Linked DNA regions of Homo sapiens: region 1 is linked to region 2. The links come from fine-mapping of genetic effects on gene expression. Tissue or cell type: visceral fat. Region 2 holds a variant in brackets; the other region holds the start of a gene. All regions are shown on one strand. Distances are between the middles of the regions.

Region 1 (2,630 bases), 73 kb before region 2:
ACACCACACACACACCACATCAGTCACACACCACACACACACAAACACCACACACACGCACACACTACACACACACCACACACTCATACACCACGCTCACACACCCCCACACACACCACACATATCATGCATTCACACACCACACACAAGCACACACATGCACACACACTACACACACACCACACACTCATACACCACACACACGACACATACCACACACACCACACATTCACACACTACACACTCATACACTATGCTCACATACACCATGCAAACACCACACACACCACACACCACACTCAGACACCACACATTCACACAAAGCACACACACCACGCTCACACACAACACACCACACACACCACACACTACACACAATTACACACACTACTCACACACACCACACACACACCACACACACACACCACACACATCACCCTCACACCACACACAAAACACCCTCACACACTCACACATCACTCTCACACACACCATACACACATTACATACACAGCACACACACACCACACCCTCACACCACATCCCAGTCACACACCACACACTCACACACTAACACCACATACACGCACACACATATCACACACTCATACACCACGCTCACACACCCCACACACACACCACACATATCACACATTCACACATCACACAAGCACACACATGCACACACACCACACACTCATACACCATACTCACACCCCACACACACCACACACACATCACACATTCACACACGACACACTCATACACTATGCTCACACACACCATGCAAACACCACACACTACACACACTACACTCACACACACACCACACCACACTCACACCATACATACATACACACCACACACCACACTCACACATCACATGCACACACACCACGCTCGCACACACACACCACACAGTGGCAGCAGCAGCAGCACCCCGGGGGCGCGGGCGACGCCAGCCCGGGACCCGGCAAGGGAAAGGGCAAGCGCGCGGCGGAGCTGGCCCCGCGCGACAAGGCGCCGGCGGCTGCGGCGGCGGCGGCGGCGGCTGCGGCGGGGGCCGGGGGCCCCCGCGAGAGGGCAGCGGGCGCCAGGGCGGGGCCGGGCCCGGCGGTGGCGGCGGCGGCGGGCGGCAGCCTGGTCCCCGCGGCGCGCCAGCAACACTGCACGCAGGTGCGCAGCCGGCGGCTCATGAAGGAGCTGCAGGACATCGCGCGCCTTAGCGACCGCTTCATCTCCGTGGAGCTGGTGGACGAGAGCCTGTTCGACTGGAACGTGAAGCTGCACCAGGTGGACAAGGACTCGGTGCTGTGGCAGGACATGAAGGAGACCAACACCGAGTTCATCCTGCTCAACCTCACCTTCCCCGACAACTTCCCCTTCTCGCCGCCCTTCATGCGGGTGCTCAGCCCGCGCCTGGAGAACGGCTACGTGCTGGACGGCGGCGCCATCTGCATGGAGCTGCTCACGCCGCGCGGCTGGTCCAGCGCCTACACCGTGGAGGCCGTCATGCGCCAGTTCGCAGCCAGCCTGGTCAAGGGCCAGGTAAGGCGAGCGCGCCGGGGCTGGGGGCGCGGGGCCGAGATCGGGTCTGCAGCGCCGCCGGGCGCCCGGGCCCCGTGGTGAGGGCCAGCGCCGGCCCCTCCGGCCATCTCGCTCCCTGCTCTGACTACACCAGCGCCCCACGGGGATGCTCCGAGCGCCTCCACCTCTTTTCCCTGAGCGTTTTCTTCCTGCCCCTGCTTTCCGTCCCGTCTCTCCCGTCCCCGTCTGGTCTCAGTCTCTGCCCGTCTCTCTGGTATCGGTCTCTGCCGTCTCTCTGGTCTCTCTAGCTTGCTCATTCTCTCCTCATCCCTTCATAGTTCTCTTCCATCCCTCTTCCTTAGCCTCCCTCTCCCATACCCTCCTCTCCCTTTCCTCCTGGACTCTTTCTCCTCTCACCCCTTTCTCTGTCCCCCCATCTATTCCCACCCCCGTTCCTTTTTCATTTTTTCCTTCTCCACCCTCCCTGGCTCCCCTACTCTTCTTTCCCCTCCGTCTCACCTTTTCTCGCCCCTCTCTTGTCTGCTCCTCAATCTCCTGTCCCTATAATCTCTATGAAGGTGAGAACTTTTTCTGGACCTCAGGATTTAAGTGTCCAACCTAGCTGATCTCCCACCTCCCCAACCCCCCCCACACACACACACACAAGGCTCCTCCGCAGGGGACTCGGGTGGGAGATCTGCAGGTGGGTGCCGTGGGGAGGGACAGCTGCCTGCTTGTAAATCCGCCCCCTGCCTTCTTCTGGGCTGCCTCTCCTGGAAAGGTGGAAATTTTGCTCTTGGGAACTCACTCTAGAGAGGCGGCGGTGTGGTTTGGGCATTCCCTTAAGAGACAAGACCAGACCCCCCCCCCCCACGGCAATGCCTGTTTTCCCCTCAGAGCACCCCCTTCCTTCCCCGAACCCCTTAGGACCACCACCTCTGGGGTAGACGTTCCAGGTCTTGGTCTCTTTCAGACCTGCTTCTTTTTCTTCATCCCCTTACCTCACTGCCCCAAGCAGTTAAATCCTTTATCAGGGCTAAAGATTTTAACGAAATACGAAACGAAGGGCCAAACAGTTCTCCTGAGCCTTCTCACCTATTGCA
Region 2 (2,630 bases):
AGACCTTGGCTGATAGCTTGGGTGAAGCTATGGATGGGCTTCTCATGAGGTTTGCAGACAATCTGTGTTTAGAGGGAGGCAAACACCACATATTGCAGAATGAAGGTTCAGAGACCAAATTTGCCAGGTGCAAATGTTGGGCCAAAACAAGCAAGGTGAAGTTTAAACAACATAAACATAAACTCCTGCATCCTGATTACACAAATAGAAGTTAAGCGGCCTTTTCTATAATTCAGGGAAGATGCAGCTCTGGGATCAGAGAGTGACAAGCTGCTGCCAAAGCTAACACAGACACCTGTCGTGTAGGTCAGGGTGGCGCAGCCGCAGGTACTGTTGCTGGCATTTGCTACTGGGACCACATGAAGTGAACTGATTTTAATTCCTGGTCCATGTTTCTCTGCTGTAATATCCAGGGAGTTATTCTGAAAACCCGCTGCTCCAGTGCACCTAGAAAGGCTGGAAACCCTCTTCTCCAAAGCCTGGAAAGGCTCCAAAGCATCTAGAAAGGCCTATTGTTTAAATGTGTGATTAGGCTCACAAAAAGATAAGGAAAAACCTCAAAAGAAGAAGAAGACTAGATCCCAAATCCAGAGAAGCATGGTGGCGCTGAGGCCCGAGGCTGACCCTGGGCTTGAGGTGGTTCCTGTACCCTGGCGTTGTCCATCTGTAGGGATCTGTGGGGACAGGAGACAAGTTCGTGGTGAGATGCCTCCCCTACAGCCCACACACCCCAAGGACTCACCTCCAGATACAGGGGAGTGAGGGAAACGGTTCAGATGGATGTAGGTGTGAGACATGCTGGGAACAGCAGGGACGTCTGTAAGGAGGGAAAGCAGAGTCCGCAGGGCAGAAACAGAGAGGCTGAGCCAGGCTCAGAGGACTCCCAGCAGAGGCAGTCACGCAGGCCAGCAGGGGTGGCTCTGGAACCCCCGAGCAAGTTGTGGCAGCAAAGAATTCGGGATCTGAGGGGTTTCAGTTGTAGGTCTGAGGTCTGTACTGACAAGGGGCAGGATGCCAGCTCAGCAGTAGTGGGGAGGTGAAGACCTCACAGGGGATAGGGGATAGGGATGGGACAAAAGAGGGAGGTCTCTCAGATACAAGACCCATTTACAGAGTCTCGGCTCATCCAAAGAATATGAGGGGAGGGGGCTTTGTGCTCACAGATGATTGGGTTAGGGGAAAGATGATTAATCACAGGCTGTGGACGCATTTTCGAGGCAGGAGCCAAGCCTTATGGCAAGATAACGAAGGGGACGGCAAGGGCTGCTCTGTGGGGGTGC[A/C]CGGGCTGGGCCCGCAGCACACCACCTGTTCACTAGGTCTGGGCAGCAATTAGACCTGCACCCAGCAGGGCCCACAAGGTCAGAACAGGGACTGTGAAGATCAAACGGAAGCGCAGGAGGGTGTTCGAGCCTTCGGGCAGGGCTTGTGCTTCCCCCAAAATCAGTGCAGGTTTGCCGGTGGCTTTCAACCAGAAAGCACTAAGGAACGCTGTGTTCGTCTGCTGGGCTGCATGACAGAGTACCTCGGGCCGGGCAGCGCACCCAACAGACAGTTATTTTTCCAGAGATGGAGGCTGGAGGTCCCAGAACAAGGTGGCAGCAGGGGCGTGTCTGGTGAGGGCTCTTTCTGGCTTGCAGACAGCCTCCTTCTCCCTGTGTCCTCACATGGCAGAGAGGGAGACAGAGAGAGAGAGCTCTGATGTCTCTTCCATCTACAAGGACCCCAGCCCTACTGCACCTGGGACCCACCCTATTACCTCCCTATGAAGGCCAACTCTCTGCCTACAGTCACACTGGGGGTTGGGGCCTTAGTACATGAATTTGGGAGGATGCATGCAGTCCACACAGGCTGAGGCAGGGATGGGAGGTCGGGGTGAACTTGGGAGTGTTTGAAACTGAAGGAAATAAAGTATGGCCAGGGAACCGCCTTCCAGCATTCCAGCGGGTCCCTCTCAGGGCAGCACTTCCTGGCCCTCAGGCTGTGGGTGGCCCCAAGTTAGACGTTTGGCTCAGCCTGCTCTAGACAGCGCTGGTGGCTGCACCCACAAACCTGTGGGCAGGACTCTGACCCTCACGCTGGCCCGGGTGGGGGCGCCTCCCGTGCCCTTGGCTCAGCTGCTGCCCCATGGAAGCTGCTCCTGACACCCTTGCTACATGACCCTGTGGATTTGCCCTCGTCCCCTTCGCAGAAGGGGAACCAGAGAAAGCATTTCCACCAGGCTTTTGAAGTGAGATTCGGGTGGGGGGGTTTGAGTTTTCTTTTGCTTTTATTAGTGTCTGGTGCTTTTTTTACCCTCTTTTCTCCATTTCAAATTGTATTTTTATTCTAATAAAATATGTATAACATAAAATGTGCTATGGTAACCATTGCGAAGTATACAGCTCAGGGGGACCAAGCACAGTCACGCTGTTGCGTGGCCATCAGCTCCATCCAGCTCCAGAACATGTTTCATCTTCCCAGACTTCCCATTCCACTTCCTGTCTCTAAGATCGTGACTCCTCTGGGGACCTCACAGGAGTGGAATCACAGCCTTTGCCCTTTTGTGACTGGCTTATTTCACTTAGCACAATGTCTTCGAAGTTCACCCCCTGTACCATGTGTCTGTATTTTCTTCTTTTTTAAGAATGGAT

Evidence for each region. PIP is the estimated chance that this variant, and not a neighbour inherited with it, causes the effect.
Region 1: UBE2QL1 starts here. The variant in region 2 is fine-mapped to the expression of UBE2QL1 in visceral fat (GTEx, PIP 0.94).

The regions. Positions count from the first base shown.
Region 1 is chr5:6,447,700-6,450,329 of GRCh38, forward strand. It overlaps UBE2QL1 (ubiquitin conjugating enzyme E2 QL1), which reads left to right and starts at 1,160. Exons shown (of 2, transcript NM_001145161.3): 1 at 1,160-1,548. The coding sequence starts at 1,195. It overlaps LOC105374639 (a long non-coding RNA gene), which reads left to right and starts at 1,638. Exons shown (of 2, transcript XR_007058679.1): 1 at 1,638-2,630. RefSeq lists a silencer at 1,123-1,192.
Region 2 is chr5:6,521,182-6,523,811 of GRCh38, forward strand. No RefSeq gene overlaps it. Among named protein-coding and RNA genes, the nearest start is that of LINC01018, 60 kb to the right of the region's middle. The variant A/C (reference allele first, on the strand shown) is at 1,281.